Homo sapiens: one gene and its partners. The protein of the gene in region 1 purifies or fractionates together with the protein of each later gene. This does not show direct contact. Each region holds a gene or a part of one and is shown in the gene's direction. Other genes may lie near its edges.

Region 1 (4,994 bases):
CTTCCTGAGTAGATGGGATTACAGGCTCCTGCCACCACGCCTGGCTAATTTTGTATTTTTATTAGAGAGGGGGTTTCTCCATGTTGGTCAGGCTGCTCTGAAACTCCTGACCTCAGATGATCCGCCTGCCTCGCCTCCCAAAATGCTGGGATTACAGGCGTGAGCCATCGTGCCTGGCCTATTTTTAGTATATTTTTTGAGACAGGGTCTTGCTCTGTTGCCCAGGCTGGAATGCAGTGATGCAATCGTGGCTCACTGCAGCCTTGACCTCCCAGGCTCAAGCAATCCTCCCACCTCAGCATATTGAGTAGCTGGGGACCACAGGCGTGTGTCATCATGCCTGGCCTTTTTTTTTTTTTTTTTTAATTTTTTTAATTTTTAGTAGAGAAGGGGTCTCACTTGTTGCCCAGGCTGGTCTCAAACTGGGCTCAAGCGATTTTCTATCCTTAGCCTCCCAAAGTGCTAGGATTATAGGCGTGAGCCACCACATCTGGCGTATTAATTTATTTTAGAAAGAGGCAGGGAAATATGAGGGAGTAGAAATGGTGAGGGAAGAGAGAAGTCTTCAGAATTGATTTTAGAAATGATTGAGATTACAAATTGCTTGTTCTGCAGAGCTTGGAAGACAACATTCTACTCCAAAGAGGAGGTTTAGGTTGCCATGTAATGATTTTGTTGGTCAAAACAGCTCAGCAGTGTCATTTTTAGAGATCACTGTGGTTAGCAGCATCCAGATCAAGGAAAGCATTTTGTGGGTGCTCAGATGTGGGGCATAGGCTGTGATGGGTGCCAGGCCCTGCCCTGCCCTCTGGGTGTTTGTGATCTGAGGCTGGGTTCTGACCCTGGCTGCGATGTGGCCTTTTGTTGCAGTGTGCACCTTTCCTCGTTATCCTCCCAATGAGGGTCGTCACCTGCCAGGAAGGTGCTAGAACCACACTGGAGGAGACAGGAGGGTGCCCTGTTTACCAGGCAGAGAGCCCTTACTCATCGGTAATACTCAGATATCTTGAGCTGCATGTAGCATAGTGCATGAGGGAGTGTATCAGTGTGTTCTTGTGTTGTTTTAAAGAAATACCTGAGACTGGGTAATTTATAAAGAGAGGAGGTTTAATTGGCTCACGGTTCTGCGGGCTGCACAGGAAACATGGCATCGGCATCTGCTTGGCTTCTGGGGAGGCCTCAGGGGGCTGTGGCTCATGGTGGAAGGCGGAGGAGAGCAGGTATCTCACATGGCAGAGCAGGAGCAAGAGGGAGAGAGTCAGGGGGAGGTGCCACACCCTTTTAAACGACCAGATCTCATGAGGACTCACTATCATGAAGACAGCACCAAGCCATGAAGTCACCATCATGAAGACAACATCCGCCCCTGTGATCCAGACACCTCCCACGAGGCCTCACCTCCAGCACTGGGGATTACAGTTCGACATGAGATTTGGGAGGGGACCACCACCCACACTCTGTCACCCGGCCTTGGCATTTAAGCTTCTGATGCATTTCAGGTGTGCGATGGGAGTCCTGACCATACCCACCACTCAGGACAGACAGTTCCAGCACATGGGCAACAACTCGTGTGTGGCTGGTGTGCGTCCTTATGCTGAGGAGGGGTGCGTGAGCTGGCACACTTGTGACGGTCGATTCTCAGGATCTCTTTCTTTTTTCTGTCCTTTCTCATGTCCCACCCTAGAGTCAGATGGAGTTCAGTATCTCCGCCCTATCCATCCAGGAGCCGAGCAACGGCACCGCCGCCAGCGAGCCCAGACCACTGTCCAAAGCTTCCCAGGGCTCCCAGGCCCTCAAGTCCTCCCAAGGCAGCAGGTCCTCCAGCCTGGACGCCCTGGGCCCCACCAGGAAGGAGGAGGAAGCGTCATTCTGGAAGATCAATGCTGAGCGGTCCCGAGGGGAGGGGCCTGAGGCCGAGTTCCAGTCGCTGACCCCTAGCCAGATCAAGTCCATGGAGAAGGGGGAAAAGGTCTTGCCTCCCTGCTACCGGCAGGAACCTGCCCCGAAGGACAGGGAGGCCAAGGTGGAAAGGCCCAGCACCCTCCGTCAGGAGCAGCGTCCTCTTCCCAACGTGAGCACCGAACGTGAGAGACCCCAGCCTGTCCAGGCCTTCAGCAGTGCACTGCACGAGGCTGCCCCCTCCCAGCTCGAGGGGAAGCTGCCATCTCCTGATGTCAGGCAGGACGATGGGGAAGACACCCTGTTCTCGGAACCCAAGTTTGCACAGGTGAGTGGCCTTTACCAGCGCGTCCTCAGATGGGATGGTGCCTTATTCCACGGGAACCGAGAGGGTCCCCCACAAAGCAGGCAGGCCACAGGTGCCCATGCTCTTTTTCTTCTCCTTCCCCTGCCTCTTCCTCAGAGGATGCCTAGGCTCAGGGTGCTGAGCCACCAACAAATATGCAACAAGACAAGTTTTGCGAGTCCATCTGGGTGCCCTAATTTGTTTACCAGTCAGGGTTCCGTGGCCCACTGCGCTTTCCCCAGTGCGCGGGCTGCTATCAGAAGAGGCCCCTGGAAGGCGCTGCGCCCAGGGCTGTCACAGCTCAAAGCTGTGTTGGGCCTTCTTTTTGGGAGCTGTCCATAGAGGCAATGGTCTGTTCTTTAGGACTGGTCTGGATTTGGGCCAGGGGAGCTGCCTGTTGGCAAAGCAGGCAGGCACACTTGAGAGGCCTCACTGGGTCTTGCCCCTCTGTGGGCCTCGCTGGGCTCCTGGCTGCCTTGCTGAGGAGTGAGCCCAGGATGCAGTTGCCTCCATGGTAGCCTCACCCATCCTCCTCTGGCCCTTGAGACTCCTTGGTTCTTGTGGGTCACTCTTTTTTTTTTTAATTTTTATTTTTTAAATTTTTTATTTCCATAGGTTTTGGGTGGTATTTGGTGACATAAGTTCTTTAGTGGTGATGTGTGAGATTTTGGTGCACCCATCACCCGAGCAGTGGACACTGAACCCAATTTGTAGTTTTTTATCCCTCACCCACCTCCCACTCTTTCCCCGAGTCCCCAAAGTCCATTGTGTCATTCTTATGCCTTTGCATCCTCATAGCTTAGCTCCCACTTATGAGTGAGAACATATGATGTTTGATTTTCCATTCCTGAGTTACTTCACTTAGAATAATAGTCTCCAATTACATCCAGGTCGCTGCAGATGCCATTAATTCATTCCTTTTTTGGCTGAGTAGTATTCCATCGTATATATATACCACAGTTTCTTTATCCACTCATTGATTGGTGGGCATTTGGGCTGGTTCCATATACTGAATTTTAAAAGTTTTTATTATGGTAAAATATACAAACATTTACCATTTTAACCATTTTACAGTATAAATTTGGTGGCATTTCAGTACATTCTCAATGCTGTGTAACCATCACTACCATCCATCTCCAGAACTCCTTTCATCCTGCAGAACTAAAGCTCTGGACCCGTTCAACACTAACTTCTCATTCATCCCTCCCCGCAAGCTCCTGGCAACCACCATTCCACTTTCTGTGTCTGTGAATTTGACTCCTCTAGGTACCTCATATAAGTAGCACCATATAGTATTTACCCTTTTGTGACTGACTTACTTTACTTAATGTGACGTCTTCAAGGCTCATTCATGTTGTAGCAAGTGTAGAATTGCCTTCTAAGGCTAATATTCCATCGTGTGGTTAGACCACATTTTGTGTATCCACTCATCCATCGACAGACACTTGGGTTGCTTCCACCTTCTGGCTATTGTTGTCTGTTAGGAATAGTGCTGCTGTGAACGTGTATGTACAAATAAGTCTTCCAGCCCCTGCTTTCCCTTCTCCTGGGTGCATACCCAGATGTAGAATTGCTGGATCACATGGTGGTTCTATTTCTACTTTTTTGAAGAACCTGCATACTGTTCGCCACAGCAGCTGCGTCATTTTACATTCCCATCAATGTGGGTTCGCGTTTCTCCACTCCCTTGCAACACTTGTTATTTTCTGTGTCTTTGCTGGTGCCATGCGAAGGGGTATGAGGTGGTGTCTCACCGTGGTTTAGACTTGCCTGTCCATGATCGTGAATGATGTTGAGCCTCATTTCATGTGCTTATTGGCCATCTGTGTATCTTCTTTGGAGAAATGTCCAATGGTCCCTTGCCCATTTTTAAATTTTTGGTTATTTTGTTGTTGAGTTGAGATCATCACTGATAACATTGAATGTCCCCCAGAGCAGGTTTCCAGTACTTCCACACCTCCCTCGGCAGATGGCTGCACGTGCTGTCCTCCCGAGGAGGGAGGATCCAGCGGTGCTAGTACCTTCTGCCCACCTCGGCTCCACATCAGTGCTCTAGCCTGTCCTCTTCGTGTTTCTGCACCTTCTTAAGCTAGTGCTTTCAGCCCTCTTGTTTCCTGCCTTCTCCGGTACCTGCCCATCTCTCCGTTCTGTTTTCTGTCTCACATCCTCCTGCCCATCAGCTCCTCCTTACAGACAGGCTCAGTTCCCTGCCTCCCTAACCAGCACTCTTTCTCTGAGACTCGGCACTGAGGGCTTCCTCTGAAAGAAGTATTTCCATAAAATAGGTGATAGTCCCCACTCTAAAGAGAAGCAGGAACGTGTTTCTGTGTGGGCAGTGGAGAGTAGGAGACAGCACATGAAATTCCTTTGAGAGAACAGATTTCTGAGTAAAGCACAGTGAAATGCCACTGCATTTAAGAAACTGGAAGGAAACCAGAACAAGGAAAACTGGATTGCACTCCTTCCATTCTGCATGTTTTGCCTCACTCTGCACCAGTCTCACATGTAGCCAAACTGGGCCTGAGACAGGTGTCAAGGGCAAGCCCATTAGCCCATTGCCTGCTCTTGCCGCCATGTATGCATTTTCTGCTGGCCGGCTGCTTGGAGGGTGGAGAGTCAAGGTTTCTTTGCTCAAGAAGACCTTGGCGCACCAGGTAAATGCCTGCCGGTGTTAGGCTGGAGGAAAGGGACATCAGAAACAGGCTGCTGAGTGGAAGCCAGTCAGAAGTTTTATGAAAACAGCAGCAGC
Region 2 (4,994 bases), on another chromosome or scaffold:
TCATTTTTTCTTCCCTTCCTGTGCTTTGCCTATGTGGTGAAATACTGCCTTTTTATAGTTGCCTAACGTTACCATTTCAGGCATACTCCCAGATTGTCTGTGAATGTCTCTGAATCCTAGTTCAAATTTTTTAAGAGAGAAAGTCATTGCTCAAGCGGGGGTAGATGTCCCCTGCCCTGCCTCCAGTCAAGTATGGCTACTATAAACTTGACTGTCAGGCCCCAATCTCTGTGTGTGGTTGAGGTGGCAGAGAGTGGGAGAGGGAGACACATTCTGAGAAGATGGGAAGGTTGTGAGCTAGGCAGACACCACAAAAGGTGTTTTATGCAGGATAATGGTAGAAGTAGGGGTTATCACTAAAATCTAGGCACTAGGTGTTGAGGGCCTGAGCTAAGGTTAGTTAGGTGCAGTGTAGACAGAAAGAAGAAAGTGGATTTAAGAGATACTTAAAAAATAAGTAAACATAATTTGATACCTCATCAAATATAGGAGGCTTGTGAGAAGGAGGAAGTCTACATTTCATATTTAAATTACTGGGAATCTGGAGAAGAAATATTGAGGAGGATTGAGTTTTATGGCAAAGATACTGAGTTTGGTTTGGACACGCTGTATTTGTGGTCCTATGGAATATTAAGTATTGCTGTTCAGTAGACACCTGAATGTAAGATTTGGAGTTCAGGAGTGAGATTTCCACTGAGATTTGGAACTCATCTGGGTAGAGTTAGCAGCTGAAGCTGTGAATCTGGATAAATTCACATAGAAGACTATAGAGTGAAGAATGGAATCCAAGGACTCTCAGTATATATAGGAATAGAAGAAGTGCTTATCAAGTAGCCAGTCTGTGACATTAGACAAGGAAGGAATATGGACTTTAACGTTATGGAGAATGTGAACATAGGATATGCTAAAGCCCTGAAAGATAAAATAGGGTCCATGGCTTACTAGTTAATAGCAATATGTACTGGGTACTGTGCTGTTTTACTTATTTCTCGCAGCTACTAAACTCTTTATTATTCCTACTTTAAGGATCAGACAACTTAGGCACAGAGAGGTAACTTGCCCATAGTTTTACAGCTGGGTGGTAGAACCAGGATTCTGCACTTAGGAAGCAGGCACAGTGGTTCACGCCTTTGGTCCCAGCACTTTGGGAGGCCGAGGCAGGTGGATCACTTGAGGTCAGGTGTTTGAGACCAGCCTGGGCAACATGGTGAAACCCTGTCTCTACTAAAAATACAAAAATTAGCCGGTGTGGTAATACATGCCTGTAGTCCCAGCTACTCAGGAGGCTGAGGCAGGAGAATTGCTTGAACCCGGGAGGCAGAGGTTGCAGTGAGCTGAGATCGCGCCACCGTACTCCAGTCTGGGGGACAGTGCGAGACTCAAAAAAAGGGTCTGCACCTAGGCTGGGCCTGGTGGTTCACGTCTATAATTCCAATCCTTTGGGAGGCTGAGGCGGGCAGATTGCATGAGCCCAGGAGTTCGAGAGCAGTCTGGGCAACATGGCAAAAACCCTGTCTCTACCAAAAACAGAAATTAGCCAGGCATGGTGGTGTGTGTCTGTAGTCCCAGCTGCTCAGGGGGCCGAGGAGGGAGGATGACTTGAGCCCGGGAGGTGGAGGTTGCAGCGAACTGTGATCGTGCCACCATACTCCACCCTGGGCCACAGAGTGAGACCCTGTCTATTTAAAAAAAAAAAAAAAAAAAGAGTCTGCACTTATCCACTGTGCTTAGTGCCTCAAAGGAAATTGAGGGAGATTCTGACTTAGCTAGTTAGTGTAGAATATGTTACTAAGGCGATTATGGTAATGGAGGGCAAACTTTTTAAAATTTTATTTTTAATTGTGGTAAAATACACAGAAAACATAAAATTCACTATCTTAATCATTTTTAAGTGTATAGTTCAGTAGTGTTATGTGTATTTGTATTGTCGTGCAGCCAATCTCCATAACTTTTTTATCTCATAAAATTGAAACTATACTCATTAAATAGCTACTCCCCATTTCCTCTTCCCCCAGCTTCTGGCAACCACCATTCTACTTTGTATCTCTACGAATTTGGCTGCTCTAAGAACCTCATATAGGTGGAATCATATAGTTACTGTCTTTTTGTGACTGGCTTATTTTACTTAGCATAATATCCCGAAGGTTTATTCATGTTACAGAACATTGTTAGACTTTCCTTTCTTTTTATGGAGGGCAAACTTTTATTTATTAGAACAAATTTTTATAGCCTTTACATATTGAAGAGGATATTATTATCTTACTGGTTTTGAAAAAAATAATTATTTCAGGGATGGTGACATATTTAGACTCCTTATAACCTCTATAATGTAAATTATATACATTAGCATAATTATCTGAATGTCCGGGATAAACATTTTTAACAAGAGAATATTTAATAAGAACTTAAAAAGCATTAAAAACAAACAATACCTTTTCAGTTCTTAACTCATTTGTTTAAGAAGGACAGCTGTGGTGTATTTTTGCCCTGTAGTGATTTTGTGATCCATGGGATTCACAGATTTAAAATACAGTTTTTGTAATATTTACAGGAATGCCTAAGGTCATTCACATATTTTTTATGAAGTTTTGTTATGGAGGCTGGTGCGTTTGGTACTGTTTGGAAGCATCTTATCTAACTGGTGAAGGAATCTAACGATGCCCTGCATTTATACCTCTGTTTAGGGATGTGGTCAGAGTCTTCTTACAGTTTTGAATATGACAGTGGAGTCCAGATTAGCTCCCCAGTTCACTACTTTTGAACTTTAGGAAGTTAGTTAAGTTTTCTAAGTTTGAATTTTGCTACTTGTAGAATGAGAATATTAGTAGCTCCTACCCCATAGCATTCTTCTGAGGATTAAATGTGGTAATGTGAATAAAGTGCTTAGCATGGTGACTGGCACATAGGAAGTGTTCAATGAATGTTATATGTGACTGTTATTACTGTCATGATGTTTGGTATACATGCGTTTGAAGAGTCCCAAATGGTCTACTGTAGCTGGAAATCCATTCCATCCCTTGTTTTAATAATAATTATTTGCTTTAGCTGAATTGAATTTAGGAAATATTAATCTGTACTGGATGCTTCAGAGGATTCAAAGTTGAGTAGAATACAATTTCTGCCTTCAAGAAACTTATACTTAAGTGTTTAAAATGGAAAAATTTTATCTATAGTGATTTTGGAATCTGCATCTTCTAAAATGTTAAGTTTTGAACTAAAAGTATAGGAATAAATCCAGGTGAGAGTATGGTTTAAACATTTTACAACCATCTTAAAATTTCTATAAAATAGTCTTTGACTTGTGCATTTTGTTTGTTTATTCCAGCCAGCACCTAACCAAGTCACTTTTCATCTGCCACTACATCGTTACTATGCTATGTTTTTGAGTAAGGTAAGACTGTCATTAAACAATTCTGTTCTTTTTTTTTTAATTTTCAGAAATAAGAATTGAATTAGTAACTTTTTTATTGTAATTTTTAGGCTGTGAAATGTCAAGAACTAGATTTGGATTCTGTTTTACCAGATCAGGAAATGTTAATGAAACTAATGATTCACCCACTCCAAATTCAAGTATGTATTCAGGCATTTAAAAAGTTTTGAAGTGGATTCCTTGTTTAAGTGATTCTTCCTTTATTTATATGCCTTTCATTGTTATTATAGCTGAGATGTTTGAAAACTTTTTTTAAAAAGTTGTTATTGTATTTTTGCTAGATTATGTTTAGGTATTTTTCATTTTATGAGATTTACTTTTTAGTTTTACTTTTTCCAGGAATTCTTTTCATGATATTTGCTTATGGGGTGGTATTTAACATACTATATAGCACTGTTTTGGGAGTCAGGAGATCCAAAAGATTCTAGCCTTGGTGCTACCACTGTTTTATTTTCCGCAAGGTTTAAGGTAATTCACCTCCTTGATTCTCAGTTTCCCTATCTGTATAGTGAGAGGAGAAAGAGGAGAGAAGAATTAGCTTATATAAGCACTGTGATTTCTTTTAATACCAGCAATGTAATTTGACAGGCCAGCTTTTTATATACATTAGAGGGACTTGCACTTCCATTTGTTTTTCCTGGCAATTTTAGATTTGTTAATTATTATAATATTGAACTTGAACTCTGGGTGTTAGGAAACATAAAATTATGACTGCTTGAAGCCAGGTGTGGTGGCTCACGCCTGTAATTCCAGCACTTTGGGAGGCCAAGGCGGGCAGATCACGAGGTCAAGAAATCGAGACCATCCTGGCCAACATGGTGAAACCTTGTCTCTACTGAATATACAAAAATTAGCTGGGCATGGTGGCGTGCACCTGTAGTCCCAGCTACTCGGGAGGCTGAGGCAAGAAGAATTGCTTGAACCTGGGAGACAGAGGTTGCAGTGGGCCAAGATCGCGCCACTGCACTCCAGTCTGGCGACAGAGTGAGATTCTGTTTCAAAAAAAACAAAAAAAATGATGACTGCCTAGTTTTAGTTGACACTGGACATAAATACATGAAGAATTAAATACTGATGTAGTGAGAACATTTATTCTAACCTCCAATATTTGGAAAATTAGCAGTATAGATTTAAGATTGAGTTAGGGTGAATTAAAGATGTAGAATGTATTCATTGACTTTGAACAGTTGGTTTTATTTTATGCTTATTCTAGTGTCTTTCTTTAAACATGTATATTAGGATTGTTGTTGTTGTTACTTAGGGTTTTCTTGAGGGAGAAATAGAGTGAAACATAAGCATTGATTTCTTATGAAAGATGTCAGTGAAAATCATCATAAATGTATCCAGAGGCCAACATGGAAAACCAACTCATTTGTTTAAACTCTAAAAAAGTGGCTATGTAAAAACATAATTATTGTTAAAAAAAATGTAAAAATGTATATTTCAACTGATTATCTTTAACATTGGACAGAATATCGGGCTTATACTATGATCACATCATTAAATATTTTGAAATGGTTATTTATAATATTTTGTAAAGATTGCATTTAGATAATTTATTCTT
Region 3 (4,994 bases), about 210 Mb from region 1:
TCATCTCTACAAAAAATTTTTTAAAAATTAGCTGGGCTTGATGGAGTGTGCCTCTGGTCCCAGCTGCTTGGGAGGCTGAGGTAGGAGAATTGCTTGAGCCTAGGAAATCAAGGCTGCAGGGAACCATGATTGTGACACTGCACTCCTGCTTTGGTGACTGGTCTCAAAAAAAAAAAATCCTGAGAAATTTTAAAAATGTTTATTTATGGCCGGGTACGGTGGCTCACACCTGTAATCCCAGCACTTTGGGAGGCCGAGGTGGGCGGATCATGAGGTCAGGAGACCATCCTGACTAACATGGTGAAACCCTGTCTCTACTAAAAAATACATCAAAAATTAGCTGGGCTTGGTGTGCGCCTGTAGTCCCAGCTACTTGGGAGGCTGAGGCAGGAGAATGGCGTGAACTTGGGAGATGGAGCTTGTAGTGAGCCGAGATCGCACCACTGCACTTCAGCCTGGGCGACAGAGTGAGACTCTGTCTCAGGAAAAAAAAAAAAAATCATTTACTAATTCATTAAATATAGAACAATAATGAACCCACTACTTATTACCATAAAACATTTTTAATGTAAAACAACTATATTTCCCAAAACAAAAAATAGTGAGAAGAGTGGCATTCTTTTACATTTTTGCACATCTTAGAAGAGGTTTCTCGTGTCTGCTTCTGCATTCATTACCTTGTGATATCTTGTACCAAGTAGCCAAGTAAATTTGGAAAATTTTACTATATGTGCACGAGAGGAGAATGAGAGTGAAAAAGGCAAATGATGCCTTAGTATTATAAGAATAGTTCTGACCTAATGGATCACCTGGTGAAAGGGTCTCCTGGCTTACAATTTGAGAAACAGCTGCCCCAGAGGCTGCTTTGTTTTGGTTTGTTGTTGTTGTTGTTTTGAGACAGGGTCTCACTCTGTTGCCCAGGCTGAAGTGCAGTGATATGATCACTGTTCACTGCAGCCTCGACCGCCTGGGCTCAACCAATCCTCCCATCTCAGCCTCCCAAGTAGCTGGGACTACAGGCACATGCCACCACACCCAGCTAATTAAAAAAAATTTTTTTATAGAGATGGGATCTCACTATGTTGCCCAGGCTGGTCTCGCTTGAACTCCTGGACTCAAGCAATCCTCCTGCCTTGGCCTCTCAAAGTGCTAATGTTACAGGTATGAGCCACTGCACCCAGCCTGCCCCAGAGGCTTGATTAGATTCAGGGTCAACTTCTTTGGTAAGAATACTTCATGGTGCCATAGGAAACACACCATATCTGGTCATCTCATTTTTTGATCCTAAAATTCATTGGTGGGTTTGGGTGAGCCATTTTGCTTTTTTAACAAGATAGTACAAACACTTCTTGCTGTTAGTAGTTGTCAGCATAACAGTTTCACCATCTTTATCAGTGTTTTGTGGTGTTTTCAATTTTTCCTAATCAACAGGAGGAAGACATCTTATTGTTTACTTTTAAATTCCCTTTATAGTTGTGCTATTTTACATTTTTCTGTGTGTTCACTTGTTTTATCTGTCTCTCATCAATTTCTTTTGACCCATACCTATTTGATTTTTTTGATGACCTTTGGAATGAATTTGGACAAAATCCTTAGGTAATGTAGATTTTAAGCTTTTCTCACTCAGTACTTTGTCCATTCTTTGTTGCTTTTTACCCTTCATTATGCCATCTTTTATGTATTGAAGTAATTTTGATATTAGATAGTCTAATCTGGTGATCCTTTTCCTTGTCAAGCCTGGACTTCTAGAATAATGGGAAAGAAATAGCACCAGAATTTGGAATCTTTTGAAGTTGAAGATGACTGCAGGATTCAGCTGCTTTTCTCTTTTATTTTGCCAAAAAGAAAAAAAAAGGCCTAGGGAAGTCATGACTTACCCATCTTTACACAATTAGTTGGGGCCAGAGTTGAAACCAGACACTAACTCTCCAAAATCTTTTTTCCCTCCTCATTCTATCACTATCTCTAATGAGTGACTTAGTTAATTTGGAATGAGAATGATGGATTTTGTATTTTGGTTAAAAAAAAAATCAAAGCATTTTCTTACCATAAATTATGTATTTTGTGGAGGCTTGCTTCTTATTAGAATACTATTACAGCTATTATATCTAGTGGAAAAGTACTATTTCTTTCTTTTTTTTGAGACAGAGTATTGCTCTGTCACCAGGCTGGAGTGCAGTGGTGCGATCTTGGCTCACTGTAACCTCCGCCTCCCGGGTTCAAGTGGTTCTCCTTCCTCAGCCTCCCAAGTAGCTGGAACTACAGGTGCATGCCACCATGCCCAGCTAATTTTTATATTTTTAGCAGAGACGGAGTTTCACCATGTTGGCCAGGAGGGTCTCAATCTCTTGACCTCATGATCTGCCCACCTTGGCCTCCCAAAATGCTGGGATTAGAGGCGTGAGCCACCACACCTGGTTGAAAAATACCTTTCTTTCTTTCTTTCTTTCTTTTTTTTTTTTTTTAAGATGGAGTCTTGCTCTGTCGCCCAGGCTGGAGTGCTGTGGTGAGATCTCTGCTGACTGCAGCCTCTGCTTCCGGGATTCAAGCGATTCTCCTGCCTCAGCCTCCTGAGTAGCTGGGATTACAGGCACATGCCACCACGCCCAATTAACTTTTGTATTTTTAGTAGAGATGGGGTTTCACCATGTTGGTCAGGCTGGTCTCAAACTTCTGACCTCGTGATCCTCCTGCCTTGGCCTCCCAAAGTGCTGGGATTACAGCCGTGAGCCACCGTGCCCGGCTGAAAAATACCATTTCTTATTCAGTTTTATATACTTTAAATTTTAGAACCACTTTGATCTCTTTTCTTTTTCTTTTTCTCTTTTTCTTTTTCTTTTCTGACAGGGTTTTACTCTGTCACCTAGGCTGGAGTGCAGTGGTACATTCTCAGCTCACTGCAACCTCCGCCTCCCGGGTTCAAGTGATCCTCCTTCCTCAGCCTCCCAAGTAGCTGGAACTACAGGTGCGCACCACCATGCCCAGCTAATTTTTATATTTTTAGCAGAGATGGGGTTTCACCATGCTGGCCAAGCTGGTCTCAAACTCCTGACCTCAGGTGATCCACCCGCCTCGGCCTCCCAAAGGGCTGGGATTACAGACATGAGCCACCATGCCCGGACAATTTATTTATTTTCTTTTTGAGACAGGGTCTCTCTGTCGCCCAGGCTGGAGTGCAGTGGTGCGATCATGGCTCACTCCAGCCTCAACTTCCCAGGCTCAAGTGATCCTTCCACCTCAGCCTCCCTGGTAGCTGGTACTATAGACACGCACCACCATGCCTGGCTAATTTTTTATGTTTTGTGGAGACAGGATCTTACCATGTTGCCCAGGCTGGGTCTCAAACTCCTGGGCTAAGCAGTGTCCCACCTCAGCCTCCTGTAGTGCTACGACTACAGACGCAAGCCACCGTGCCTGGCCAACTTTGAGAATTTAAAGTATTATTGTTGTTTAAGAGTAAAAAATGATCTGATTTTGACCAATATTTTGCCCAACAGGAAGCCAGCAGACCTGCAGAACTTGGCTCCCGGGACCCACCCACCATTTATAACTTTCAACAGTGAAGTCAAAACGGATGTAAATAAGATTGAGGAATTTCTTGAAGAAGTCTTATGCCCTCCCAAGTGAGTATCAAGGAAAATACGTATGAAAATATTGTCACTTCTTTGAAGCTTGTGTTATTTGTCAGTAGAGATCTTTCTCGCAGCATTAATTTGGAATGACTAGGACTCTCTTCTATGTTTCTTATAATTAATGCTACACAGATATAAGAATTGGCTTCCAGCTAGGCCAATCAGCCATACTAAGAAAGGTGGGGATTTGTCTAAGCTGTAGAATATGTGGTAGAAACAGATTTGGGATGTGTCTGATAGGTCAGGAAAGACTGGTTATTTGTGGACTGTAGGTCTCAAACTGAGAGAGAAGTTTAAAGAGGAGAAGGGGTGGGGAAAGACACATTCCAACTGAACCCAGTAAGAATGTCTTAGCAGGAGTGTGGCACAGGACTGCAATGAGATTTGATTTCAGTTCATTTTAAAGGTAACTTTCTAAAGCTATAATCCAAGGACATTGACTTTTCCGACTGTGTCCCTAGGATTCAGAGTTTTTATTTACTTACTTCTTTGAGGTGTTCCAGATCTCTAGGTCCTGGATGTACTGTAATGATAGTTACCTAAATTGCAGATATGCAGCTTTGCATCATACTGTAATATTGGCATAGATTCAAAGCATTATTTGTTTCTTTTAGGCTTTTCCAGTTTCATTATCCTGAAAATTGACATGTTTTGTTTCTACTGACCAAAACCTTTCTTACTGGTTAACTTGACTGTTGCCCTCCATGTCCAGATATATTTTCCAGGAATGGGATTATTGAGATGGAGGGTTCTAAAATAATTATAGGCATACCCTGAAGGGTATGGTTCCAGACCATTGCGAGTTAGGTTCCAGACCACAGTGATAAAATGAATATTGGAATAAAATGAGTCACGTGAAATTTTTCGTTTCCCAGTGCATGTAAAAGTTATATTTACAGTAGTATACTGTAGTGTTTTAAGTGTGCAATAATAGCATTATGTCTGAAAATATTGCATGTACCTTAATTTAAAAATACTTCATTGCTAGGCTGGGTGTGGTGGCTCATGCCTGTAATCCCAGCACTTTGGGAGGCTGAGGCGGATGGATCACCTGAGGTTGGGAGTTCGAGACCAGTCTGACCAACATGAAGAAACCCCGTCTCTACTAAAAAATACAAAAAAAATTAGCTGGGCGTGGTGGCAGGCACCTGTAATCCCAGCTACTCGGGAGGCTGAGGCAGGAGAATTGCTTGAACCAGGGAGGCAGAGGTTGTAGTGAGCCAAGATCGTGCCACTGCACTCCAGCCTGGGTGACAAAAGCAAAACTCCGTCTCAAAAAAAAATCATTGCTAAAAAATGCTAATGGTTATCTGAGCCTTCAGCGAGTCAATCTTTTTGCCGATGGAGGGTCTTGCCTTGATG

What was found. Proteins that work in one complex are often made in the same cells at the same time.
Region 2: the proteins of C1orf198 (region 1) and UBR3 purify together in Homo sapiens (affinity purification with mass spectrometry; one large-scale study listed by BioGRID and IntAct). This does not show direct contact.
Region 3: the proteins of C1orf198 (region 1) and CLIC4 fractionate together in Homo sapiens (co-fractionation; one large-scale study listed by BioGRID). This does not show direct contact.

What each region holds. Positions count from the first base shown.
Region 1 is NC_000001.11:230,840,587-230,845,580, reverse strand, and holds part of C1orf198 (uncharacterized protein C1orf198), read left to right. Parts: intron 1-1,684; coding exon 1,685-2,227; intron 2,228-4,994.
Region 2 is NC_000002.12:169,920,604-169,925,597, forward strand, and holds part of UBR3 (E3 ubiquitin-protein ligase UBR3), read left to right. Parts: intron 1-3,325; coding exon 3,326-3,391; intron 3,392-3,480; coding exon 3,481-3,570; intron 3,571-4,994. UniProt on the Homo sapiens protein: E3 ubiquitin-protein ligase which is a component of the N-end rule pathway. Does not bind to proteins bearing specific N-terminal residues that are destabilizing according to the N-end rule, leading to their ubiquitination and subsequent degradation.
Region 3 is NC_000001.11:24,810,597-24,815,590, forward strand, and holds part of CLIC4 (chloride intracellular channel protein 4), read left to right. Parts: intron 1-3,497; coding exon 3,498-3,623; intron 3,624-4,994. UniProt on the Homo sapiens protein: In the soluble state, catalyzes glutaredoxin-like thiol disulfide exchange reactions with reduced glutathione as electron donor. Can insert into membranes and form voltage-dependent multi-ion conductive channels.